Homo sapiens: one gene and its partners. The protein of the gene in region 3 purifies or fractionates together with the protein of the main gene of each other region. This does not show direct contact. Each region holds a gene or a part of one and is shown on either strand. Other genes may lie near its edges.

The links.
Region 1: the proteins of ANO6 (region 3) and LEMD2 purify together in Homo sapiens (affinity purification with mass spectrometry; 2 studies listed by BioGRID and IntAct, with this or other methods). This does not show direct contact.
Region 2: the proteins of ANO6 (region 3) and LMAN2L purify together in Homo sapiens (co-immunoprecipitation; 3 studies listed by BioGRID and IntAct, with this or other methods). This does not show direct contact.
Region 4: the proteins of ANO6 (region 3) and ANAPC1 purify together in Homo sapiens (affinity purification with mass spectrometry; 2 studies listed by BioGRID and IntAct, with this or other methods). This does not show direct contact.

What each region holds. Positions count from the first base shown.
Region 1 is NC_000006.12:33,779,131-33,786,130, forward strand, and holds part of LEMD2 (LEM domain-containing protein 2), read right to left. Parts: intron 5,390-7,000; coding exon of another isoform or gene 5,363-5,389; exon of another isoform or gene 5,331-5,362; intron 5,298-5,330; coding exon 5,222-5,297; intron 2,024-5,221; coding exon 1,947-2,023; intron 1,050-1,946; coding exon 970-1,049; intron 1-969. UniProt on the Homo sapiens protein: Nuclear lamina-associated inner nuclear membrane protein that is involved in nuclear structure organization, maintenance of nuclear envelope (NE) integrity and NE reformation after mitosis.
Region 2 is NC_000002.12:96,737,050-96,744,026, reverse strand, and holds the start of LMAN2L (VIP36-like protein isoform 2 precursor), read left to right. Parts: upstream 1-3,962; 5' UTR 3,963-3,986; coding exon 3,987-4,173; exon of another isoform or gene 4,174-4,187; intron 4,188-5,959; coding exon 5,960-6,078; intron 6,079-6,809; exon of another isoform or gene 6,810-6,890; intron 6,891-6,977. UniProt on the Homo sapiens protein: May be involved in the regulation of export from the endoplasmic reticulum of a subset of glycoproteins. May function as a regulator of ERGIC-53.
Region 3 is NC_000012.12:45,345,083-45,352,116, reverse strand, and holds part of ANO6 (anoctamin-6), read right to left. Parts: intron 5,096-7,034; coding exon 5,030-5,095; intron 4,090-5,029; coding exon 3,802-4,089; intron 3,600-3,801; coding exon 3,486-3,599; intron 1,459-3,485; coding exon 1,343-1,458; intron 1-1,342. UniProt on the Homo sapiens protein: Small-conductance calcium-activated nonselective cation (SCAN) channel which acts as a regulator of phospholipid scrambling in platelets and osteoblasts.
Region 4 is NC_000002.12:111,860,163-111,867,196, reverse strand, and holds part of ANAPC1 (anaphase-promoting complex subunit 1), read left to right. Parts: intron 1-2,245; coding exon 2,246-2,391; intron 2,392-3,301; coding exon 3,302-3,522; intron 3,523-4,598; coding exon 4,599-4,808; intron 4,809-7,034. UniProt on the Homo sapiens protein: Component of the anaphase promoting complex/cyclosome (APC/C), a cell cycle-regulated E3 ubiquitin ligase that controls progression through mitosis and the G1 phase of the cell cycle.

The DNA of each region.
Region 1 (7,000 bases), on a different chromosome or scaffold from region 3:
CAACATGAAAAGGTGAGTGTCATCATTCTTCTGTGTTAGCAGCTTCAGTGAGCGCTGCTGCTGAGGATAAAATCCGTATTCTCCTCCGCCTTTTCTAACACAGGAAAATTGCTCAGCTACTCAGGGCAGCTTTTTTTTTTTTTTAAGCCAACAAATTTTAATCGTGCCATGCATCCAGTTATCCAGCTTGAGGTGGAGCTGCCCGAGGGGCTTCTGCTGGATGCAGTGCTGATGGAATTAGTAATTTGGGTGGATTAGAGAGGAAAAGAACAAAACTCTAGAGACGTTTTAATATCAAGAGCTATAACCTGAACAGAGACCCCCACAAACACCGAGAGTGGGAAGTGGGGAAGTGATGCTGCTCTGCCAGCAGGGGACAGGTCTCTCAAGGCTGCCTGGCTGTTGGCTGACACGCCCCTCCCCCTGGGCTGAGCCGCCAGATACAGCCTTTCAGCCTCATGAAAGGGTTTGCTACCTTTTCTAACAGTGCTCACCAGTGATAAAAATGAGGCAGAAACTGCCTGGTCAGAATAAAATCCAGTATTTCCTTATGCGATTTCCATAGTAAGTAAAACCAACATACAGAAAGAATAATTTCATCTACAAATAAAAACTAGCTCCCGAGGAGGGGAAGTGCAGAAAAATGCCTTCCCCAACAAACCATGTGGTGTTGTTGATGAATGAGAAAGGCACAGACTGAGTTACCTGAGACAGGATTTAGCTGGAACACCAGGCTAACATCCTAACACCTGGATTTTGTGTCTCATCTTGAAGCTGCTCCTTACACTGCATTCCAAATGCTTCTTGCTTTTGTTGCCCCACTTCCATCCTAACCCACATGATTCTGCTGGGAGACCCAGCCTCCAGCTTCAGACCTGAGACAGCTCTGTTGGAGCACGGGTGTTAGCTGACGAGCGAGGACAGTGGTTGCAGGCACCCATGCTGCGTCGCCACCCTGCCCACACTCACCAGATGCCCACGTCCTTGTTACTGCTCAGTATCCAGGTCAGTGCGGCTTCAAACTTGGCGGAGGAGCTGCTGGTCACATTCTGTGGGAGGGCGCGGGAGAAGGTTAGTTCGGCGTCTGGGCGGAGCAGCTGGAACATTATTCTGCTGCTGGATTAAGGAAGCCCTCTCCCGTGTCCTCCACAGCCCCAAAACCCTGTTCTGCTAAAAGCACAGCAAAGTGGCAGGAAGGAAATCGGGGGTTGATGAAAGCCAAGGAAGAGGCTATAACCAGAGGAGGTGATGCGGAAGCACAAGCAGGAAAACAGTGCGGGTCTGAGGCGGCCAAAAGAATATGATTCTCTCGAGGATGGAAGCATCAGGCCAGAGAGCTGGCAGCTCATCTTAGGGTAAAGCGAATAACAGCGTTGTGGCTGGGGGTGGGTGAGCCCAGTGGCCGGTGCAAGTGGTCTGGCCTCAGGCAAGTCCCTGACCCTCTCCAGGCCTCAGTTTCTTCATCTGTGAAATGCAAATGGAACCAGATGACCCCTAAGTTACTGGACAGGCAGGCGACCTGGAATACCAGCTCCATAGTTCTATAATCTACCATCCTGAGGCCACACAGGAAATCAGACGGCCCCTGGGCAGTCTGAATGGTAATCATACGGGGGAGAAGGGACAGCATGTTTCTCCTGAAAGCCGAAGGCAAGACGAGCAAAGTGAACCAAGGGAGAAGCAGGTAACAGGCACACCTACAGTGCAGCAGTCAGGAGTGAGCCGCCCCACTGCACATGGCGGCCTGGCTCTGGGGCAGTCACTACCATGGCTGCCTTAACTGAAGGTAGTCTAGCACAAAAAGCCATAAACCAAACCTTAACTTAAGGTAGCCTAGTACAAAAGCCACAAAGCAAACAAAAAACAAAAACCCCAACAGGGCTTGAAAGACCAATAGGAAAGCACCAGGCCCTCCCAGGAATGTATAAGCACTGAAGCCTACTTACGGCTATATATTCTTGGGCTTCCATAACAGGAATGCATTTGCTTTTTAGATTCTCTGGATTTCCACACTCAAAATTACCTAGGAGAAAAAAAACCACACATGCTCAAACACAAAGGAAAAATCACTCTGAAACAGACTAAAAAATGCAGCAAGAATCAAGCCATCAGCTCTAATAAGGAGCATGTTGCCCAGCGGCTCCTGGCTTCTGTGGGGCATCTTCACTCTGCAGCAAGATCAAAAGCCACTTAGCTTGGATCGATTCCAGATCATTAAAACCTGACCTGCAAAGCAGTGTGGCATTTTGCATTAAATGACTAAAAAGCTGCCCAATAGCAAGGTCTCTTTGCAATTGATCCCTAAAAGAATCAGACAGATAGCTTCGGAAGGTACCGGAATGGCACTATAAATAAACACAGCCTGAGAAAAAAGAAAGGCAGGGAGGCCATGGGCACCACGGGGATTCTGACTCATGACACAGGCAGGCGACCTGGAATGCCAGGTCTATTGTCTTGAGGGGCCCCTTGGAGGAAGAGGATGTCTGTGTGCTGGGCAGTGGGGCCTCAGCACAGCACGCCAAGGGGCAGCTCCCCCGAGTGGCTTTGGAGGCCTGCTCCCATAGGATGGAGCTGGCAGCCTCCCACTTAGTCCTGCCCAACCTCCCCGGTCCAGCCCAGGGGCCATCTCCCCTGGGAAGCCCTCAGCCCCTGGGGGCCTTTTGTTTGATGAAATGGCCCCAGATTTGGTGACCTGCCATAGCCCTTGGTCCTCGCTCCTGTGCTGTGGTTTGCCTGACTCCCCGAGAGCAGGGAGGGTGCAGGGCCACGCACGCATACACTATTTAACACGTGTGCGTGGCCTGACTGCCCTGACCCAGCACAGCCTGGGGGACTTCGGGTGGCCAGTGAGTGTGTTTCTGCATGCTGGGGAAGGGAGCAGCTGAAGGTCATATTTTAAAACTTTGAAACTGAACTGAAGCCTGTCGCCTTCCCCTAACACAGCCAGATCCTCCTACTTCAAAGTTGATCTTGACCCCAGGGGTCCCCTGAGACACAGGTGGCTTCTAGCATCCTCCTTTTCCCACTAGGACTCTTCCTGCCCTTGCCAGGCCTGCCTGGACCACGTAGATGGCCTCTCGATTCGGTTCCTCCTCTCCCTTTCCCAATCCAGTTGTTTTGTCAATAACACTTGAAAATGATTCTGCTTAACTGTGCTACTCAAGCTGCTGCCGCATTCACCTTCCTGGCACCTGGCTCTCAGCATGATACTCCCTTGCTCAAAGCCTCTCTGGCCCTCACTGCCTGCCAGATCAAGCTCTGGTGGCCTGGCATCCAAGGCCATCTATGGTAGGGCCCAACCAACACTTCCAAACTTCATTCTCTCATCTTCCCCTTCCTCCATGAAGGTGCTGCTTCCCACTCGAGATGTAATTTCCTGCCGCTTTGCCTTGTCCTTCCCCACATACATGTAACCAGTCTTACCTGGGCTTCAGGGCCTGGCACAGATGCTACCTCCTGTGACGCTCTCCTGACTGCTCCAGCTAAAAGGCATTGTGCCTCCCAGAACTTCTGGCCTCTTGGTTCTTGTCTAATCACATTTTATATCACCCAGTGGTCAGGGAGGTAGGTGGCCTGTCTCTTCCAGTAGACCCCAAGCCGGGGTTGGGCCCTGCAGGCAGGACCTGGAGCTGAGTCATCTCACTGCAAGGGCCTGCACAGTGCCCAGCCCACAGCGGATCCCTAACAGGAGAGGCATGGAAGGGGTTGAGGACTACTAGGGAGCCTCTGTGAGGCACACTCCTGTCTCAATGAGATATGTACCTTCAAGGCGGCCCCCCAGGCTTGTCGGAGGGCAACAGGTGCCAGGGCCCTTGAGGGCATAAGGCAAGACCACATATGGAGGGTAGGATGGAGGAGAAATATCTACTAGGACCCAATTTCGAGCAGTGCTTCTCAACTTTAGGGTGCACTCAAATCCCCTGGGGATCTTAAGATACAGACTCTGATTCACTGGGTTTGGCATGAGACCTGAGATTCTGAATTTCTAGTGAGCTCCCACGTGATGCAGATGCTATGGGTCCTTGGACCACATTTGAGACACAAAGGTTTGGAACACTCTCTTAGGTCAGAATTGACATCCCAAGCACCTGGGCCGTACAGAGGAATTCCTATGATGCTGTGAGCAGGAGCCCCAGTACCTGTTTCTCCTCCAAGTGCTCATGGATGCCTCCCCTACCATCTCATCTCTCACTTTCAAGAGGGAGGAGGCAGAAGAGCTGATGCTCATGAGATTGACCCTGAGGACTGAGGGCCCAGGAGAAGTCCACCCGACCCTAATTTCCCAGTGAAACCTTAGACAAGGGTTGACCTCACAATCCTAAGACCTGTCCTCTGACCCCACAGGTAAGAGGCGCCTCTTGAATATCCCTTAAGATAGAACTGCTCTGTCTGGTTCTTGTGTCCAGCGCATTTAACACAAGGCGCACATGCTGATATTCACCTATGTCAACTGCAAGTGATTTTGAGAGCCTCCTGGATGCCAGGCGTCGGGCAGGACATAATAATGCAGGTGGTATCTCTGGCCTCAAGGAATAACTTCACCAAATAAAACAGTAGGGGATGCATCTTCTGGATGCATTTTCAGGGGCATTTCACAGAGGTGCTGAGAATGCCCTCCTTTAGAGGACAGCACTTGACTCTCATTTGTAGAGAACAGACAGACCCAAGAGCCCTTGGTCAGACAGGGAGATGAAGACCCTGAGAGGATCAGGGACTTTGTCCGAGGTCCCACAGCCACATGGTGATCAGGACCAGATGTGACACCAGGGCCCACTACACAGACTATCTGCTACTTGCACAGGCAAGAGGCCTCTCCCGGGCCCAGCCAACCACCTGGTTCAGAGGGTCCCTCTAGGGTGAAGGACACAGATCCTGACAACACCTGGGGCTTGGCCCCTTCCCATGCCAACAGAGACCCCCAAAGCATTAGGTAGTGGGCATCCCCAAGAAGGAAGAACAGCTGCAGGAAGGCCTGTTCACATGCCAGGACCTCCCTTAAAGAGGAGCAAGAATCAAATATGTTTTGTTCAAACACAAGGCTTATAAAAGATGTGCCTGAGTGAGGAGGCGAGAAGGTGAGACTCGGCTTCTGAATATGCCTTCTGAGAGACAACCAGGGAGTGTCTCGCTGGCCAGCAGCAGTGTAACTAAGCCTGATGAACCGGGTCAGCCGCCCATAGCTCTCACAAGAGGAATCTCAGGACTTACGTGACTTACTCACCAGCTTGGATGGCCAGGAAATTGTAGAGTTCATGCAGCAGCTCCAGCAAGGCTGCCTTCTGCTTGGCCTGACAGAACTGGAAAGGCACGGGACAAGTGGTCAGCAAGGAGGGGTGGGTGGGAGGGGTCCGTCTGTCCATCTTTACTTCTCCAGCCACACTGTCAAATACTAAACAGCAAGGAATATCTCATACTTTTACAAAATAGAAAAAAATTCTGCCAAGTGCTGGGCCTAGGGAGAGAGTTGATAAATATTGGGTTAACTGCCTGAGAAAGACCCTGGAGAAGCAGAGGCAAAGCTGAAAGCAGACACTGTAACCAAGGGGCTGCATCCCAGAGGCTCCTGGCTCCTGCCTTTCCCTTGGAATGACGGCCATTAAGAGGGCTGAGCAGAGGCGACGTGGTCGGGGGATGATGCAGTCGCTCAGCTTCCTCAGAGGAAGAGCAACTGCTGTCGGAGTTTGCAGAGATGGGAGAGCTGGAAGAGCTAGGAGAGCTTGCAGACAGGGCAGAATGTCAGCAGCTGCCATCTCGTCTCCCGTTAGGTGGAATCTCAGAGCCCTCATCTGAGTAAGGATTGTGGTAGGATTCAGTGCGAACTCACACAAACCACTCAGCAGAGGCTGCTACCACCTAAAGGAAACAGGAGGACAGACGGTACCAGACAACGAGACGGCCTGATTAAGACAACACACCCACTCCCAGCCTGTCCCCACGTTTTCAGCAGCACAAAGGCAGAAAGAAAAACACAAAGTGTCACCGTCTTCAACGACCGAAAAGGGAAAGAACATGAATCTGAAATTCAAATGCCCGTCTGTGATCTCGGTAAGCCTGGAGCCATGCAAAGAATAAGACTTTCAGCAAGAGCCTCACCAAAGCCAAGAAACACGTCCCCACCTGCTTGTTCCTGTGTCCACCCTCCAGAAAGGCCAAGGGTGCCCCATGAAATCTTAGCTCCACAAAGCCTGCATTGAGATGGCCCAGCCCCTGCTTTCTGATGCTCTGATGAAGGTCTGAATGGTTACAAATAGGGATATCTGCGTCTGAAGCCCTCGCTGGCAGGTGCTGAATGCCGTCTGCCCACGGAGCGCATCTGTAGCTAGGACCTGGAGGGTACCTGTCTGGGCTCACTCAAGTGGAGCCTGAGTGTGTCCAGATCAGAGAAGGCCAGGGAACAAATGTGCCATTCACTTGTGGGTCTGATTCATTTAGAGATGTGAAGGACCAAGAAATAGAAACCATGGAACTTTTTTCTAATTAAAAGACAAAACTAACAGCACTGAGAAGTCTTACAGAAAGTTATTTTTTCCTGTTTTTGTTTTAAGTCTTCAAATTCCAGTTTCCCCTCTGGCTGCCTGTGTTTCTGGGCCACTTCCTCTCATCATCAACTACAGTTTTTATGATAGAAGGCAGATTAAACTTACTATGAATCTGTTTTTACAAAACAATTGGGAAGCAAAGATATTTGGTGGATGAATCCAATAAATGGATGTAATAAAACACCCCCAACTATGACACACCCGAAGCCAAAGAGAAATAAAAGCCGTTATCTGCACCAGGATGCCCCCTCATTTACATGAGTAAGACAGTCAATGCAGGGCTGGCCAGAGGACCATGCGTCATTTTCTTTCCCAGCCCCTGGGCTACTAGAGATGTTAACTAAGGACTTGGGAGGCCAGGCATTGCACACTTAATTAGACTACTAAGTCATGCCCTCTGGCAGCACAAGACTCCTCCTGGTACAATTTAAGACCTGAAAATTTACTGCCCCATATCTTCT
Region 2 (6,977 bases), on a different chromosome or scaffold from region 3:
CACTATATTGGCCAGGCTGGTCTCGAACTCCTGACCTCATGATCCACCCGCCTCAGCCTCCCAAAGTACTGGGATTACAGGTATGAGCCACCGGGCCTGGCTCTTCCTTTTCTTTGATACATTCCTCATTAATAAGCATTCTTCCTATTGCAACAGTCTGAACAAAATGATTTGATTTATAGTCCAGTGCATCTCACCTTTCACACCCTTCTCCTTTATTCCCCTTTTCCTCATCACACAGAATTTTACAATGAGATTTCTGCTTGTGTCAATCTATCAGAAATTCAGCTGACAGGGTGCATGACACTGCGAATGAATTTAATGCCTTTGAACTGAACACACATGGTCCTGACTTAATGATGGTTTGACTTAGGATTTTTAGACTTTAGGATGGGTTTAGTTTTTCTGTAGGTAACCCCATTGTAAGTTGAGGACCATCTGTACTTAAAAATTATACGCTGTATTTTATGTATTTTTTTTCTTTTTTTTTTTTGAGACAGAGTTTCACTCTTGTTGCCTAGGCTGGAGTGCAGTGGCGCGATCTTGGCTCACCGCAACCTCCACTTCCCAGGTTCAAGCGATTCTCCTGCCTCAGCCTCCCAACTAGCTGGGATTACAGGCATGCGCCACCACACCCGGCTAATTTTGTATTTTTAGTAGAGACGGGGTTTCTTCATGTTGGTCAGGCTGGTCTCGAACTCCCGACCTCAGATGAGCCACCCACCTCGGCCTCCCAAAGTGCTGGGATTACAGGTGTGAGCCACCGCGCCCGGCCTTTATGTGCATTTTACTACAATTAAAAATTCATCTTGCAGAGAAATGCAATGGAAATAATTTATTCAAAACAATTAGAACCCCTACTATGTGCTGGGTGATAGGTTGGGGTTGGGGAAATGGGTGGGGCCTGAGTTAGGAAATGAGTAAGACCTGCTTCCTGTGGTCCTGGAGCTCCCAGCCTTGCTGCGGAGACAAACCCATAATCTGTTAATTGAGCTCCATAATTCCAGGTGACACACATTACAGTACACATGCGTAGCGCCTGATTTCAGTCAGGATGCAAAGGGCTTTGAATGCTACACTAAGGACTTTGGATTTTGGTAATTGGGAGTTATGAATGGTTTTAAAGCCAGTGTATGACACGAACAGATTCATTGCAATTCCTAAAGTCTTAGCACCAGACATTTGACATTGTAGGGTGTCAAAGACTGATGGCAGTGACAGGCTGGGCACCATGGCTCACACCTGTAATCTCAGCACTTTGAGAGATGAGGTGGGAGGATCGCTTAAGGCCAGAAGTTCAAAACCAGCCTGGGCAACATAGAGACCCCCATCTTTAGAAAAAATTTTAAAAATTAGCTGAGGCTCACCCAGCAGTTTGAGACTGTAGTGAGCTATGATCACAGTACTGCACCCCAGCCTGATGGATTGAGACCCCATTTCTTCTTTTTTTTGTTTTTTTGAGACGGATCTGCTGCTCAGGCTGGAGTATGGTGGTGGGATCTTCTTGACTCACTGCAACCTCTACCTCCTGGGTTCAAGTGATTCTCCTGCCTCAGCCTTCCAAGTATCTGGGATTACAGGCACCTGCCACCACGCCCATTTAATTTTTGTATATATATGTATATATATATTTTTCGAGACGAAGTCTCACTGTGTTGCCCAGGCTGGAGTGCTGTGGTGCGGTCTCGGCTCACTGCAACCTCCGCCTTCTGGGTTCAAGTGATTCTCCTGCCTCAGCCTCCTGAGTAGCTGGGACTACAGGCGTGTGCCACCACGGCTGGCTAATTTTTTGTATTTTTAGTAGAGATGGGGTTTCACCATGTTGGCCAGGATGGTCTTGAACTCCTGACCTCAGGTGATCCGCCTGCCTCCCAAAGTGCTGGGATTACAGGCCTGAGCCACCGTGCCCAGCCAAGACCCCATCTCTTTAAAAAAAATAGCTGTGACAGCTTTAATTTTAAAAAGTTGATCCCCTGTAAAGTAGGCTCATAATTATGTTTATCTTATTAAATATATTCATGCTCAGGAAAGCAAGAGAGTGTTAACTTTGGTTAAGTCTATTGGGAAGACATAAACACAGATCTGTCAATTGCTCTATATGAGATGTGCATGGAACACTTTGAGAGCTCAGACAGGAGAATCTACCCTGCCTGAGAGGTTTGAGAAGGACCTCCAGAAGGAAGTGGACTGCAGAAAAAAAAAAGAGGGAAGGGAAGCTGGAGCATAAAGATGGAGGAAAAGAGTCATGGGCAATAAGGCCAGGGCCAGATGGCAGGGGGCTTTGTGTGCCAAATTGAGGGGCTTGAATCTCCTCCCCACAGGTGATGGTGAGCCATCAAAGGCCCGGTTAATAAGAATGATGATGATGAAATAGCGCTTATGGCTTGGTGCGGTGGCTTACACCTCTAATCCCAGCACTTTGGGAGGCTGAGGAGAGAGGATCACTGAAGTCTAGAAGTATGAGACAAATCTGGGCAACTTAGTGAGACCTCCCCCACAACCCCATAGCTACAAAAAATAAAAATTAGCAAGGTGAGGTGGCACACACCTGTAGTCCCAGCTACTTGAGAGGCTGAAGTGGGAAGATCCCTTGAGTCCAGGAGGTTGAGGCTGTGGTCATGCCACTGCACTCCAGCCTGGGTGACAGAGAGAGACCCTGTCTCAAAAACAAAAACAAAAACAAAAACAAAAAAAAAAAGAAAAGAAAAAAGAAAGAAATAGTGCTTACTACACGCAAGGCACTGTTCTAAGAGGTTTACCAATATTGACTCATTTAACCCTGACACTTACCATGGTTAGATAGTTTGGATCACTTTAGTGGCTACGTGGAGACCAGTCTGGACACATGTTGTGGTGCCGGATAAAGACGAAGGGATGTGCCTGTAGTCCCAGTAACTCAGGAGGCTAAGGTGGCAGGATCACTTCAGCCAGGGAGGGAGAGGCTGGAGCTGAGATTGTGCCACTGCACTCCAGCCTGGGCAACAGAGCAAGACCTTGTCTCTCTTTTTTTTTTTTTTTTTGAGATGGAGTTTTGCTCTATGTGGCCCAGGCTGGAGTGCAATGGCTTGGTCTCGGCTCACTGCAACCTCTGCCTCCCAGGTTCAAGCGATTCTCCTGCCTCAGCCTCCCAGTAGCTGGGATTACAGGCACGTGCCACCACGCCTGGCTAATTTTTTTTTTTATTTTTAATAGAGACGGGGTTTCTCCACCTTGGTCAGGCTGGTCTCGAACTCCCAACCTCAGGTGATCCGCCTGCCTCGGCCTCCCAAAGTGCTGGGATTACAGGCGTGAGCCACCGCGCCTGGCCAAGACCTCGTCTCAAACCAAAAAGAAAAAAAAGAGGAAGGGAGGAAAGGAGGTGATGGCTTTTAGAATTAATTAATTTGTGTGCTTTCAGTTCTTTTATATCTGTAGGTTGCTTGATGGCCCAGACTATCACGGCAAAGGAGTCATTTGCATTTGAAGAGAATGTGTCTTCCGCAGTTGTTAGGTGGAGTTTCTATAAATATCATCAGGTCAAGTTAGTTGGTAGTGCTGTTCAAGTCTTTTATAAATTGATAGTTTTCCAGCTATTTTACGGATTTGTCTATTTCTCCTTTCACTGCTATATCTTCCAAATTGATTCAGAGAGCTGCAGTCAGGAGCGTACTATTGCAGAGAGGATAGAATGTTTGGGACCAGAAGAAACGTTTTATCTCTTTAAATTTACTCTCGTACGCAGAAAACAAAATACAAATAAACTACGTATCCCAGCAAGCCTAGTGGAACTCAGGGCAAATGCAAATAAGGGGGGGGGCTGGGCATTCGGCTACGCCCCTTTTCTGGGTTGGCAAGGCAACTGATACAGAAGCCAGCCAATCGGTGATATAGTCACCTGCAGGGGCGGGGGCTTGACGAAAGCCAATAGGACGCAGGGCAGATGGCTCTTCGGGCCAATGGGTTGGGCGACGGGGCGGGCTTTTGATGAAGGGTCGTTGGTGGGAAAGATGGCGGCGACTCTGGGACCCCTTGGGTCGTGGCAGCAGTGGCGGCGATGTTTGTCGGCTCGGGATGGGTCCAGGATGTTACTCCTTCTTCTTTTGTTGGGGTCTGGGCAGGGGCCACAGCAAGTCGGGGCGGGTCAAACGTTCGAGTACTTGAAACGGGAGCACTCGCTGTCGAAGCCCTACCAGGGTGAGGCGCCCAGGGTGAGGTGGTCGTGCAGTGGGGCGGGCTTCGGGACTTGATTTCAGGGGTAGAGGCGGGGGCGGCGAAGGGCTTCGTGGCCCGGAGGAAACTGCTGGCGGTGGTGGGGCCCACGGAGACTCCCTCCGCGTTTGGGAGCCACAGGTCTGAAAGGCAGGAGTTAGGTGTGCCTGCCAAGCTCTGGAAGTTTCCAGTAGGTAAAGGCAGGGCTGTCGGGTGCCACTAGTACTAGGCCTGGAGTTAGACAGGAGGAGTTTGGGAAGGGGAGAGAATTGAGAATGGTGAGGAGTGATTGAGGGCTACTAGCAATGAGCCAGTCTCCAGATGGACCTGTGGATGTGCTAGAAATAAAGCAGGAGGAAGAACTGGGGTAGAACTTGAACGAAATGAGAAGATGATAAATTTATGTTGCTGGGTAGAACCACCTTCTCTTCTCCAGCCTAGGGGCCCTGTTGGTGAAAGAGGTTAGGGTTCACAGAACTCTAAGCACAGCTTATCAGCCAGAAAATTAATGCAGTTAGCCACAAAACGATGACAAACCAGTGCAGATGGCTTAACTAACACAAGTCTTTCCCCACTAAGGCGTAGGTAGTGGGACAGAAAACAATTCAAAGTGCAAGAGTATACTCTACTACTAAGGGTAATCATTTATTCACTTACATGCCTGGAGTGCCTCTGTGCTGTCTCTTTGCTAATGCTTATGGGTTTGCAGACACAAAGTTTTCATTCTTAAAGAAGTTTATAGGTGAGGGTACAGGGAGTAGCTTCACACTTTAAGGATTGTTTAAAGAAAGAATGTGACGGCTGGGGCGGTGGCTCACGCCTGTAATCTCCGCACTTTGGGAGGCCGAGGTGGGCGGATCACGAGGTCAGGAGATTGAGACCATCCTAGCTAACACGGTGAAACCCCATCTCTGCTGAAAATACAAAAAAATTAGCCAGGTGTGGTGGCGGGCGCCTGTAGTCCCAGCTACTCAGGAGGCTGAGGCAGGAGAATGGCGTGAACCCGGGAGGCAGAGCTTACAGTGAGCCGAGGTCATGCCACTGCACTTCAGCCTGGGCAACAGAGCGAGACTCCATCTCAAAGAAAAAAAAAAAAGGAAGAATGTGACTAAGCCCCGGAGGCCTGAGGGTCAAACTCTTTTTATTTATATTTATATATTTTTAGAGACAAGGTCTTGTTCCGTTGCCTAGGCTGGAGTGCAGTGGCACAATCATGGCTCATGCAGTTTCAATCTCCTGGGCTCAAGCGATGCTCCCAACTCAGCCTCCTGAGTAGCTAGGACTATGGACAAGGACTACCACACCTGGCTAATTTTTTTTTTGGTAAAGACAGGGTCTTTCTATGTTGCCCAGGCTGGTCTCAAATTGCTGACCTCAAGATGCCCTCCCTCCACATCATCTCAAAGTGTGGGGATTACATGGGTGAGCCACTGCACCTGGCCTGTCAAACTCTTTTTGATATAACTCAGGAAAATTTTTTTCTTTTACGATGCTGAAGTTTACTCACATATAAAACGGGAAGAATGGATGTGAGCTATGGTTACTGTAACATGCATAAAGTGAGAGTTCTGATGTGCTTTGGGGTCCTTACCTGATAAAGGCCTTGTGAAAGCTGTAGAGATGGTAAGATTCATGACTGAGAGAAGATAGGAGATTGAGTGACATTAAAGGGGGAAAAAGATGATGGCTCAGCTTTCAGAGGCTCTGTGGTGGCTGCTTTCTGAATGGATTGGTGTTGAAAAGTATGAACTGATCTACTTCCTTCCTGTAGGTGTGGGCACAGGCAGTTCCTCACTGTGGAATCTGATGGGCAATGCCATGGTGATGACCCAGTATATCCGCCTTACCCCAGATATGCAAAGTAAACAGGGTGCCTTGTGGAACCGGGTGGTAAGAATCTTTCTCCCTCCTGTGTTGGTGACCCAGAAAGGCCTAAAAAGTTCAGCAGTGGCATACTGATTTAATTTTACTGTCTATCCCCCTGGTATTCTATCTTCTGTGGATATCAAGGATCTTTATTTTTGAGATTATTCTGACCTTGATAATAAATAAATCAGGTATTTAGGAAAATGCTCTCTATTTAATTATAGCAAATAATTCATTTTTTTTTCCTGAAATGTCGTTAATTCCTGATTGGCCCAATAGTACTACTTCTTAGGGTTTAATAATAACTTAACTCCTGCTTAACCACTTTGTAAGAAGATTATAAGAAGACCAGAGTGCAGTGGCACAATCATAGCTCACTGCAGCCTCAAACTCCTGGGCTTAAGGGCTCCTCCTGCCTCAGCCTCCTGAGTAGCTGAGACTACAGGCATGTGCCACTGCACCTGGCTAATTTTTAAAACGTTTTTTGTAGAGATGGGGTCTTGCTATGTTGCCCAGGCTGGTCTCAAACTCTTGGTCTCAAACAATCCTCCTGCCTTGGCCTCCCAAAGGTCAGGGATTATAGGTGTGAGCCACCGGTCCTGGTTGAGAGTACTCTTAAATTGATCCCAAACCTTATCCCAGCATCCCCATCTTGTTATTTCAATTTGAAGAGTCTGATATAAAATTTTATTTTCATGTGAAAGCCACTCTGAGCTGTTGGTCATTTTATTTGTCCTTCTCTGGACCTTTTCTAGCTGCATTGTCTTCCTTGAGGTATGGCGACAAGAAGTGAATGCAGTATTCCTGGTGTGGCTGCACTGTGATTTTGTACAAGTGTAAGATGATGCTTTCTTTTCTGTTTCCAGGGCTTTCTAAATCTTTTACGACCAGTTTACTTTTGGGCATGACTCTGGCATCCTTTG
Region 3 (7,034 bases):
CATGGGGTGTTGAGACACCATAAAAAAACAGGTACGTGGCTCCAGACAGACATGAAGTTAACTCTCCTCTCCTCGTCACTCTCCACATCCAATCCATAAACAAGTCCTGTCGACCCGACTCCCCAAACACATCCCAAATCTGCTCCCACAGTCTTCTGCCTGGCTCAAACAGCCTCCTACCTAGTGGTCTCCCTGCTCCCTGTACCCCTTATAATCCATTCTCCACATTATCTGCAAAACGTGAATAGGATACAATGACTTAAACATTTAAAATATTACAACTGCTTCTCACTGCAATTAAAGTCTAAACTCTTTTCGGCGCTCCTGCCACCCCTCTAACTTCATGTCTTGCTCTGTTTCTCACTAGCACTGGTCTCTGATGTTTCCTCAAACTTGCCAAATGTGTGTGCATCTCAGGGCCACTGTACAAGCTGCCCCTATTCCTAGAAGGACTTCTGCCAAGTCCTCAAAGCACTGGCTCCTCTTCACTATCCGATCTCAGCTTAAAAGTCACCTCCTCAAAGATAACTCCCTCAACTCACTTCCCACTCTGCCCTCCCATCCTATTGCTCTGTTATTTTCTTCACTTCCATTAGAAATTCTGTTTATTTATTTTCATGTTTTATTGGCTTGTTTGGGTGTTCTTGGTCTATCTCCCACAAGCCAGAATCCTCAGCCCTGCCCAAACAACGTAAGCTTCTGGAGGAAAACCAACAGGGTACCTTGGGAAGAAAAACTCTTGAGCTAGTCATTGTATCTTGTGAGATACAACGAAATAGAACCTAGAGGCAGACATAAGAAAAGAGTGAAAATGTACATGTCTTACCATACAATAGAAACTACATCTAACATTTACTTCTGTGCAATATGGAATTTGGTGGGTCTGCATCCCAGTTCCTGGGCGGTGGGTAACCTCTAAACCCTTGGAACTTCCTGAGAGATAGGAGTGCCTTTTTATTCACAGTGGGACCCTAGGACTACGCCTGATAGTTTATGCCAGTGAAGTGGCTCATGGTGGACCTCTAGAGAGTTTGTGCTAATGAGATGACTCAGGGTGGAGGCTGGCCATGCCAGAAGATCAACCATGTGATTGGAGAACTGGAGCTTTGAGCCACATATTACTGGCCATCTTCCAGGGGGAGGATGATACTGGAGATGGGTAATGATTCAATTAATCATGCCCACATAATTAAGCCTCAATAAAAACCCTGGCCAACGAAGCTCAGCACTCTGGGTCAGCTCCCTTCACTGGCAAGAGTCTTGATGAGTACTGTCACATTCAGATGCTGTGGGGGTAACACCCTGAGTGCCTCCCCCTGGAGTACTCCCTACAACCCCTCACCTGATAAGATCCAAGGGCTGCTTTTTGTATATGCTTCGAGGATGAGCCCATTCTCTGTACAGAAGGTACCGTTCATTAGGGCAGCTGGGATCCTCTGACTGACGGCGGAATTTGCACTGTGACGCAGAAGGGAACATGTAAGCACCATAATCATCGTGTTTTCACAAATCTGCTTCTTAAATGTGATACAAATACTTGATAGTCAATTGTGAACAAGGGGTCCTCACCTTCTGGAAAGGGTGGAAATACCATCTAATTTTTAGTGATTCTTAACCAGGCATGGTACTACCCTCCTTGGGGGTCATTTATGAATGTGGGCAGGGATGAACGATTGGGTGTTACAATCCTGGGGAGCACTGCAGGGACTCTGTGAGGGCCCCAGAGATGCTTAAAATGCTTTAAGTGGGGCAGTCCTACACAATGAAAAATTGGGCCACCCAAGTGCCCAAATCACCACACCAGAGGAACACGTGATAACCCACCCCTCTCCTTGGACAATGGGGAAACCAAGGCCTTGGCTGGTTAGCAGCAGGGTCAATTCTAAAACCTAGGCTTCTTTGCCCCCAGTTCAGCAGTTATTCTGTGATAACATACAGAAAACAAACAATAAAGCTGGGTATCATGTTACACACTTAGCTTATTCAAGAAACAAAACTTCCTGCTTAAATCCAGTTGCCTTTTTTTCTGACTCATTTTTCTTCTTCTGGCACTAGAACCAGATTACCACCCAGCCAAATCAGGGCACAGGCCCTGACCTTCACACACCTCCCTCTCAAATACCACATGGGACCATTTGTTAGCCTGAATACAGGACCACTGCAATTAGAAGAGGCTTTAGTGGAAAAGACATGGCCAAAAGCAAATGTCAACTGTTAGAGAACCCTGGCATCCCAAATTAATATTCGTGACAGCTATTTGCAAGTGGCCTCAAAATTCATGTCCTGTTATTCGCAATTAGCTAAATTCAGTGGGGCACAAAAGTAAAACACATGGACTCTCAGGCTGGATGGCTACATTGGGTCTCTTAGGATCAGTATTTACCTCACCCAGCTCCCTGTTCTCTACTTTTCCATGTGTATCAAGCTGCTGTTTAGTGTCCTAGTTTTATTATGTTATTCAGTACATTTCAATATCGTCTCTATCCACAAATACATGTACTACACAGTAGCAATTACCAATCTCAGTCTTTACTTTCTTTGGTCTTACACAGTCAGATAAATTGATAGTGAATATAACAAAGTAATAATGCAATATAATATAGTATTTAATTTATTTCAATGACAGAGTTTAAACAGCTTTAGTTATAATGTCCCTGCATTTACAGTGGTCACATTTTAAAAATTTCATTTCACGAGAGATGTTCTCGGCTAGAGAAGTACTCTTGAATTTGAGGGGTTGCTGTGGTCTCAGAATGTAGTCCTTAAAAAAATGTCAACCATCTGGGGTACTGCCATTGTCACAACAACCCTGACAGATGCCTTTTTAAAAGCCCAGGGATATTCCAGGGGACAGTTTGAAAATCGTATTCCAAATGAGGAAGAAAAGTCTATGTTGCAGAAAATGATAAATGAGAAGGTCTAACATGTATTTTGCTGACAAAGAACTAATCTTTTCTGGTTGATAATAACATCTGTTAGTAATTATGAAAACAGCTAACACTTATAATAGTATTTATTATATGCTAGGGACTAACATTTGGATTAATTTAATGGATTAATTTAATCCTCTTAACAACTCTAGGAGGTAGGTAATAATTTATCCCCAGCTTATTGATGAGGAAATGGAGGAAGAAAGGCTAAATGACTTTCACAAGGTCATCCAGCTAGAAAGTGGCAGGGCAGGCATTTTGGTCTCAGAAATGCTAACACAGATTAACTGCTAATCTATACTGCTTTACACATTAACTGTGAGAGAGGTCCTGTCCATTCATTCATTCGCTCCTTTAAAACTGAGTATCTTTATAACTGGGATCCATCTGTGAACAAAAGACCTAGTTCTTACCCTAAATGAGCTTGTAATCTTGCAGTATGTTCCCTTCATTTTACTGAGGAAGAAACTTACAGTCAGGAAAGTTAGCCCTTTGCTATTGTCAACACCAGAGTATACAGAAGGCCTTTTAGTTCATTTTTGCCTTTTAACTTACATCATGGAGTGGGAAAGCTGCCTTGTAGATCCCAGAGTTTACAAGTCTGTTGATCCCAAACTTGCTAACATTGTTTATCACTTGATACTTGACCCGAGAGAGGATGAAGTAAACCTAAAAAGATTCCAAAATAGAGTATGCGGTTTATATAGTGTAATTAACCAATCCAATCATTGTTTACTACTGTAACACAAATCTGCTGGCATATTTCTTTTCTTTTTGTGCAGTTTTTAAAAATAAAACCAAACCAACCAAACCACAAAACAGCAGGTTCCAAATTACCCCAAGACAGCAACTAAATTTGGTTTAGACTTACAATGCGGCTTCTGGTGGCTGGATTGAAGAAAGCATCTCTATCAACTATGTAAAAATCATTCATCCGGTTCTTCTCAAATGGGGCAGTGAAAAACTCTTGCTCTGGCTTGATGATGCTTTCGTCTACACTGAGGACTTTGGTAAACCAGTTGAGTGTACCAAAGGCTGAGGACCGGTTTTTCAGATCATTGGGTTTCAGAGGCAATTTGATGTGCATTATCTCAGCATACGTACATAACACCTCCCATGGTGCGTGTACTTTTACAAATACAAGCTTGTCATCCAATACCTATATTGGAAAAATAAAAACGCAGAACAAGAAACCAACTCTTTTCACAATTTTAAAACACATAGATTTTTCTTATGTTGTTGGTAGCTTTAAAAAAACAATACAGAGACCACCACTAAAAGTGAAGATAACAATAAAAACAGATTTGCAAACCATCATAAATTTTTGTCTTAAAGACGATTTCTTGGTTTGAATCATTAAGGAAGTAATTCAAATCATCATAGTTCATAAAACTATGAAAATAATTTATAAAATGAAGAAAACCAAACTTATTTGTCTATCACTCTACCCTAATTATTGACTTAAAGTAAAAACACTAGAATATTCATTGTAGTGCTAGCATAATGAAAAATTTTTAATTTTCTAAACCTCGAATGAACTTATTGTCTATCTGTTCAATATCATATTATGTGGCTGTTAAAAATGTCAAAGAATTATATTTATTGACATAAATCCATTTGCTATATATTAAAGGGAAAAAGCAAATTATAAAACTGTGAAGTGGTAATTTTCTCCTTTTTGAAAGATAAAAAATGTGTACATATATATTTTTGAGTAAAACAGCTCAGAAGGACTGCAAAATTATTTATGGATAATTAAGATACAGATTATTTTCCTTATTCTTATGTTTTCTAATTTTTTACCATAAACTATTTTTTGTATAACAAAAAAGCTTTTAGAAGTTTCTTAAAGAAAGAAAATAATCATTCATACATGCATTCATTGTAAAATTCGTTGGCTATTAAAAAAGATCTGCTAGTTTTGATCAGAAAAAAAGAATACATCCTACACAATGCAGATTTTGATTGACTCCTCTCCCAGTCTATGACTAAGATGTGGCCAGGGCTGCATGTTTCCAATGTCACCCAAGTATTCCAAGTGGCACGAAGCTGCCCGAGAACAGTGGTCAGCCGAGGGCTGAAAAGGGACCAGTACTTACTGATCTTGTTGCTTCTAACTGCAGGCCATGACAGATAAGGTTAGATTCGTATGCTTGTCTTTTCCTCTGTCAAAAGAAGTTGGAATATATGTTAGACCTTTAGTTTACCAAAGGCAGAAAAAGGCATTTTTTAAAACAATATTAATAACAAAATCAAACTAGCGTGGACCTGAAAAAGAAATGCATCAGCATTTGGTCAAGCAAATGGAATAGAAGAAATGAAGCAGCTCTTGCTGCTGGTGACATGTAAGTGTTGGATCCCCAAGAGAATGCCGTGGAGGGTACTTCGATGCCCTGGCACCCTGGAAGGCCCTTGGCTGTCCTGGTGTGGTTTCAGTCATCTGAGGTAAATAACAGTATCCTGCTTTGACACAATCCCACGTACTTTTTGGCTCATAAAAGCATACAAATTGAGCTTTCTGAGTCCTATTCACTGATACGAGTTTTCAGAGTTGAAGATTCCAGATTTTAAAAATTTGGTTTCCATACCAGACATTCAAATGGTTCAATTACTGGATGTGTATGCGTCATCCCTGCATATCTTGACCAAATTCAATAAAACAACACAGGCAATTTTGGCAAAATTCAGATAATTTTTTTCTCTCTGCAAGACTGAGATGTTTGTGAAGCTATGTCTAAATCCATAAAAATAGTGAACTAAATTGATATCTATATTACATGGCCATTTCAAAAGATACAGAATATACTACACTTATGGATATTAAATTCTAGATGCCTAGGCTTTTGCCAAGCTGTGCCCAAAGTTGTAAGGGAAGCATGCAAAGATGGAGACTTGTTTGACCTTTTAAAAAGAATGCTTTTCATGACAAAACAGTTTATACTGCTTTGTGAAATGAAGAAAATGAGTAGACACAGAGGTTAAGAACACAAGCTCTGCTATGGTTTAAATATGTCCCCCAAAAATCATGTTAGAAACTTAATCCCCAATGCAACAGTGTTGAGAGGTGGGGCCTACTGAAGGGTAATCAGGCCACAAGGGCAGACTTAACAAATTAATGACATTATCACAGGAGGGAGTTTATTAGCATGGAATGAGCTCCTTATAAAAGTTTGGCCCCCTTTTGTTTCTAACCCCCCCGCCCCATTTTTGTTTCTCCCTACCACCTCTCTCTCCCCCACCACCGTGGGGGTGACACTGCAACAAAGTCCTCACCAGATGCCAGCCCCCTTGATCTCAGACTTCCCAGCCTACAGAACTGTGAGCCAATCAATTTCTGTTCTTTATAAATTAGTCTGTGGAATTCTGTTACAGCAGCACAAAATGGACCAGAATGAGCTCTGTAACCACACTTCCTGGGTTCAAAATCTGATTTATTATTCATCAACTCTATGACCCATGACAAGAAAATTAAACTCTCCATGCCTCATTTTTCTTCATCTGTAGAACTAAGAAAACCCACTTGTTTCCTTTTTAGGGTCTTGTGAAGATATGATTTAAACTACATAAAGCACATGAAGTAGAATTTTCATTTCCAATAGTGACAAAAGGTAACTTGGGGCAAGCCTTACACTGAAGACAGCTGAAAACGCTGGGTGGAATATTTAGCACAGCAGTTAACAAGACAGAGAGGAACTGCTAGGTCCAGGTCGAGATCATCTAGTGGGTCTGGCAGTCAGACACTTTACCCAGGGAACAATACTCATGATCTGCCCACTCTAAAGGGACAGAGTGGGGATGAGTTGCTGTGCTATGCACAGGGCCTAGAACATAAAAAAAATCCCATAAACTAGAAGTAGGTGAAGCTGCAGGAAAAAGACCAAAGGTCAAAAAGTAAAAGAATATACCTGGTATTTGGCTACATTTGAGTCCAAGTGGAATCCCTGATGTATTGTGTTGAAGTATCAGAAAAAGGATATTGCTTTGTTTTTATATCTTTAATAAATGGTTGTACAGTACTTAAAACATGCCAGACACTGTTCTAAGAGCTGTTCAGATATAGTACATTTAACTATTGGCTGCAATTTGAACATACAATAGAGTAGC
Region 4 (7,034 bases), on a different chromosome or scaffold from region 3:
TGCTTCAGCCTCCCAAGTAGCTGGGATTACAGGCATGTGCCACCACACTCAGCTAATTTTGTATTTTTAGTAGAGACGTAGTTTCACCATGTTGGTCAGGCTGGTCTTGAACTCCTGACCTCAGGTGATCCACCCACCTCGGCCTCCCAAAGTGCTGGGATTACATCGTGAGCCACCGCACCCAACATAAGAATGGTTTTTACCTTTTAAAGGGTTGTAGGAAATAACAAAGATTATGTGATAGAGTCAGTATGTGGACAGCAAACTGCCCTATTTAGTCTTTGATCTTTTACAGAAAAAGTTCAAATTTTATGTTGTTACTAATTGCAGACAACCCGAATAAACATACTAGAGCCTGGGATTAAATGGCACGCAGCCTTTTTTTTTTTTTTTTTTAAGTACAATTTCCATTTTATTTTTTCTCTGGAGAATAGTCTGTTTTTAGTCGTTTTATTTTCATTTTTTTTTTTTTTGAGACGGAGTCTCGCTTTGTTACCCAGGCTGCAGTGCAATGGCACGATCTCGGCTCACTGCAGCCTCTGCCTCCCAGGTTCAAGCGATTCTCCTGTCTCAGCCTCCCTAGTAGCTGGGATTAGGGGTGTGCCATCACGCCCAGCTAATTTTTTGTATTTTAGTAGAGATGGGGTTTCACCCTGTTGCCCAGGCTGATCTCGAACTCCTGAGCTCAGGCAATCCACCCACCTCGGCCTCCCAAAGTGCTAGGATTACAGACATGAGCCACCACGCCTGGCCTTGTCTTCAGTGTTGAAGGACTCAGCTCCTTACATGGGCTTTGGTGGGTGTGTTTGGTCCTTGTGGGCTTTACAAGGTGGATTCCTGACGACTTTTCTGTGAATTGCACATCTCACACAGTAATTTAGCTTCACATACAGCTTGGGAAGCACATAGGCATTGAAGACACTCGCTTCACAAATGTCCCTGACTGCTGCGGCCTCCACCACATTTCGAATGATGAATTTTTTTTTTTTTTTTGAGACAGAGTCTCGCTCTGTTGCCCAGGCTGGAGTGCAGTGGCGGGATCTGGGCTCACTGCAAGCTCCACCTTCCAGGTTCACATCATTCTCCTCCCTCAGCCTCCCGAGTAGCTGGGACTACAGGGGCCCGCCACCATGACCCGCTAATTTTTTTTATTTTAGTAGAGACGGGGTTTCACTGTGTTAGTCAGGATGGTCTCGATCTCCTGACCTCGTGAGCCGCCTGACTCAGCCTCCCAAAGTGCTGGGATTACAGGCGTTAGCCACCTGCCCAGCCTCGAATGATGAAATTTCTTAATGGCCTTGTCCTTGGGCACACGTCGGGCACAGTTTGTGCAACGAATAGGCTGCATGTGGCTGTGCCCCTTTTTGGCATGATTGTTGTTCCTTCTTTTCTTTGTCATCTTGGAGGCACGGACTGGAGGGAGGAGTGTAGCCATTATTGATCATATTTTTGACTAATATTTAGTGAACTAGAAGTTGCTTATTTGTGATGTCAAGTAGGATACAAATAACACAGTATGATTATAATTTTGTAAAAATGTATAAAGTGTGTATATATGTATGAAAAAAACCAAAAATTCTCTAATGTATTAATAGTAGATATTTTGAGATGGTGGCATGATTTTTATTTATAAAGTATTTCTTATGATTATAGAATCATATTTTAAAATTTTTCAGTATTTTAACTGAGTGGGAAACATTTCCTGTCAAATAAGGATATGGAGACCAGTCCATGGTACTTTAGATTAAAAGCTGAACTCACTGGGAAAAACCTTATTTTGCATGTGTAACTAGTAAAGCAGAAACAACAGTGTACTGTTCGGCACTGTCTGAATAGTAATTATAGAGTACAGCTTTCATACAGAAAAACAGAACCAATAAGGAAGTCAAACTTGGCAGAATAGTTGAGTGCAATTTATAAATAAGTCAGTTGAAGAAATCATCGACCTTTTACCTGTGGCTGATTCGTGTAATGGTGAGAGTCAGCACAAATCTTAACATTTAGCAACAGCATGTATGTGAAGCTAAAACTTGTAATGCTCTCATCTTTAATGTATTTTAAGGAAGTTGATGCCTAAAGTAAATTTATTAAAAATTCAGAGTTAATTATTTAAGATAGTAATAAATTTTGTGCTCTCTTTGGCTTGGTTGTTCTTTATCTTTAACAATTTTAAGAGCTCTGTTCATAAATATCAGTCTTGTAAAGCCCATTGTTCTATACCTGATTTTTCTATTTTATTTTTAAGGTCTTTTTGGTTCATCACGGGTGCAATATGTTGTAGATCATGCAATGAAAATTGTTTTCCTCAATACTGACCCCTCTATTGTAATGACTTATGATGCTGTTCAAAATGTGCATTCTGTGTGGACTCTCCGGAGAGTCAAATCAGAGGTAAGGAGAAAGGCAAGTCACTTCTCCTTAATAGGAAAGGGTAGGCTGGGTGCACTGGCTCACACCTGTAATCCTAGCATTTTGGGAGGCCAAGGCAGGCGGATCACTTGAGGTCAGGACGTTCAAGACCAGCCTGGCCAACATGGTGAAACCCCATCTATACCAAAAATATAAAAAATTAGCCAGGTGTGGTGGCTTCTGTAATCCTATCTACTCGGGAGGCTGAGGCAGGAGAATCACTTGAACCTGGGAGGTGTAGGTTGCCGTGAGCCAAGATCATGCCACTGCACTCCAGCCTGGGTCACAGAATGAGACTCCATCTCAAAAAAAAAAAAAAAAAAAGTATATATATATATGAAAGAGTAGTTAATACTTCATACCCTCACTTTTTTTTTTTTTTTTTGGAAAAATCACTTGTGAATAGTTTTATTATCATCATCATCATCATCATCATCATCATCATCATCATCATCATCTCTAGAGACAGGGCCTCACTCTGTCACCCAGGCTGAAGTATAATGGCACAATTACAGTTCACTGCAGCCTTGAACTCCTGGGCTCAAGTGATCCTCCTGCCTCAGCCTTCCGAATAGCTAGGACTACAAATGTGTACCACCACTCCCAGCTAATTTTTAATTTTTTGTAGAGATGGGATCTTGCTATGTTGCCCAGGCTGGTCTTGAATTCCTTGGCTCAAGCTATCCTCTCTCCTCACCCTCCCAAAGTGCTGGGATTATAGATGTAAGCCACGGCACCTGGCCTCATTTGAGAAATAGATTGAGCTTCTTAGGAAAGAAGAAATACTGTGTCTTTAGTAACTGACTTCAACTTGCATTCTTACAAGGAAATTGCTACTTTATTCTAATTATTGTTTTTTTTTTTTTCCTCTTTCTCTTTATTTTGACTTAAGGAAGAGAATGTTGTTTTAAAGTTCTCTGAACAGGGGGGAACCCCACAGAATGTGGCCACTAGCAGCTCCCTCACAGCACATCTCAGAAGCCTCTCCAAAGGAGATTCCCCTGTGACTTCACCTTTCCAGAATTACTCCTCCATTCACAGCCAGAGTCGCTCAACCTCATCACCCAGTCTACATTCTCGCTCACCTTCTATTTCCAACATGGCAGCTCTAAGGTATAAGGGTTTCCTGGTTTTTCTTTCTAAGCTTTCTGTTTTGTTTTGAAGGATTTAGAATTTCTGTTGACAGCTGTTTTTAGGGGAAATATATTTAGGGGAGATGTTTTTTAGGGGAAATAGCCATTATCCCAATTGAGCCTTTTTTTTTTTTTTTTTTTTTGAGACGGAGTCTTGCTGTGTCACCCAGGCTGGTGTGCAGTGGCGCAATCTTGACTCACTGCAAACTCTGCCTCCCGGGTTCATGCCATTCTCCTGCCTCAGCCTCCAGCTGGGACTACAGGCGCCTGCCACCATGCCTGGCTGAGTTTTTTTTTTTTTTGTATTTTTAGTAGAGATGGGGTTTCACCGTGTTAGCCAGGATGGTCTCGATCTCCTGACCTTGTGATCTGCCTGCCTTGGCCTCCCAAAGTGCGGGGATTACAGGCGTGAGCCACCGTGCTCAGCCCTGAGCCACTTTTACTAAGATTTCTAAGTTTACCATGTCACATTCTTTCCTGAGTCATATTTTGAAGCTGCCTATGCTTGACCTAAGGTTAGTTGCCTCATTTCTACCACTATGTGGGCAACAGTTTGATGAATATTAATTCCCAAAATACTGTGGCACTATTTTATTTTTGCCTTAATTTATGTTAGTTTTTCTTTTTTTTTTACTTGTTATTTGATATGTAAATGTATCTATTTCTCTATATAGATATATATTTAAATGACCAGATATGTATATCTGGTGCTACAGGGACATTGTTTTGTTGATAAATATATATGTCTGACTATACAGGGACATAGTTTAGAGCTTTTTGAATAATCATTCATTTTCCGAAAAAGAAGATGATCTAAGTTTTAGTTGTAAAAGATGAGTTCTTCTAATAATAATTCTAAATCTTTAGAATATAGTAAAGCACATTGACATGAACCATTTAAATAGCTACTCCTTTTTGAAAAATTTTAATTTCTGACCTGGATTATGCCATGAATGCTCTTCTGTCTGTGGAATTTTTGGAAGTGTCATTGGAGTGTGTGTCATATAAGCCTGCCTTGCTAACTGTGATGTACTCTCTCCTCTGTTTATTTTGCAGTCGTGCTCATTCTCCTGCGTTAGGAGTGCACTCTTTTTCAGGGGTGCAAAGGTTCAACATTTCAAGCCATAATCAGTCTCCAAAGAGACATAGTATTTCTCATTCTCCAAATAGTAATTCTAATGGCTCCTTTCTTGCACCAGAAACGGAGCCAATTGTTCCTGAACTGTGTATTGACCATTTGTGGACAGAAACGATTACTAATATAAGGTTTGTTATATATATTATTATATTCAAAGAAAAATGTTGCTGAAAGTCTTGGGAAATATATGGCATTTTGTTTAAAGTTTCCTTTTAATGTGATCAGTTATTAATATATGTAAAAATATATAGAGATATGTATTAAGGCCACCTCAGTTTCAGTAGAGGATATTAATGATATTAAAGTGATCATAGGCTGGACGTGGTGGTTCATGCCTGTAATCCCAGCACTTTGGGAGGCTGAAGCTGGTAGATCACTTGAGCCTAGGAGTTCGAGACCAGCCTGGCCAACATTGTGAAACCCTGTCTCTACTAAAAATACAAAAATTAACTGGGTGTGGTGGTGCATACTTGTAATCCCAGCTACTCAGGTGGCTGAGGCAGAATTGCTTGAACCCAGGAGGCTGAGCTTGCAGTGAGCTGAGATCGTGCCACTGCACTCCAGCCTGGGTGACAGAGTGAGACTATCTCAAAAAAAAAAAGTCATCATAAAAATATTATTTTGTCATCTGATATTTCTTCCTTTATAGTAATAATCTCTCATTTTTCGGGTGTTTTTTGTTCTGGGGAGAAACAGTTAATTTCCATCCGTGAGGAAATGTGGGGTTTTAGCACGTTTCCTAAGTTTTATGTTCATGTTAGTTGAGTGCCAGCTTTACTTTTTGGGAAACATAGCTTAGATCTCTGTTCTGGGTGACCTTTCTTCTTTTATATTCTCTTTAATAATTCACGTGTTAATTTATATGCCAATGTGTGTGCTAGTTAACAGTCTAATAAGTCACTGTCCCTGTCCTCAAAAGAGGCAGATAGCTGAAGGATGGTGACACAGGAGGGACTACTTTTGCTGGTAGGGCTTTGAAAGACGAATAGGTATTCGCTAGGCAGGGAAGTTGAGAAAGACCACAGACGGCAGCTGGGATCAGAACAAAAGTTCTGGTGAGTGCGTGGTGTATTTAGGGAATTACAAGTACTTCCACTCTGGTTTTTGCAGAGGGGAGGGAAAAGGCTAATGAAGAGGAGGCTTCCTAGGCGCAGTGGCTCACACCTGTAATCACTCACTTTGGGAGGCTGAGGCAGATGGATCACTTGAGCTCAGGAGTTCAAGACCAACCTGCCCAAAATGGTGAAACCCCATGTCTACTACAAATACAAAAATTAGCCAGGCATGATGGCGTGCATCTGTAGTCCCAGCTACTCTGGAGGCTGAGGTGAGAGAGTCATTTGAACCTGGGAGTTGGAGGTTGCAGTGAGCCAAGAGCACACTACTGCACTCCAGCTTGGGCAACAGAGTGAGACTGTCTGAAAAAGAAAAAAAGGAGGCTTGAGAGATTACTGATTGCCCTTTAGGCCTCTGGTATGTTTGATGACAGCGGTAAGAAGGCACTTTATAAGTGTGTCGGAAGTTTGGGAAAGAGCAGAACAATAAATGTGGAATTGTCAGCTTATAGGTGGTGATTGAGGTAAGAGAATTAGATTAGAATTGAAGAATTATTGTATTCAATAATTGTGTGTACATGTAGTATATAGGCCTTTTCCCAAGGAGAGGGTTTTAACATTCCTTAGATTCTCAAAGGGATTTGTGGCCTCCAAATAGTTAAAATCCAGTGGTGTAGAATGAGAAGAGGGCTAGGAACTGAAGTCCTGGAAACTTAAGATTTGGGGAATGGAAAGAGACAAAGCTGGCACAGAGAGACAAAGCAAAAGAGGTCAGATGGGAGAAGCAGCAGGAAATACAGAATACAAAAAAGAACATTTCAAGAATACAGAGATGCCAGTATTGCCAGGTACTGGTGAAGTGTGGCCCTGAGAGTTGAACCCAGAGAGGAGGTACCTGGGTGGCAGTGGGTTCCTTGGTGACCTTGGCCAGAGCATTTTAAGCTGGGAGGGTGGCGGGGGAAAGTGGGGTAGAAAAAGTAAATGGGGACTGAGGAAATGAACATAGGCATACAGACTCTTTAAGGAGTTTGCCTTTGAATAGGAATGAAGATACAAAATTAGAGGGAGTCTTGGTCAAGGAGAGTTTTGTTTTTGCTGAACTATAATAAAATTAGTTTTCATGACATCTTGCCCCAGTATTTTCTTTTTCTTTTTTTTTGAAACAGGGTCTCACTCTGTCACCCAGGTTGGAGTACAGTGAGTGACTCAATCACAGCTCACTGCAGCCTTGGCCTTCTGGGCTCAGGTGATTCCCCAACCTCAGCCTCCCAGATAGCTGGGACTATAAGCACACACCGC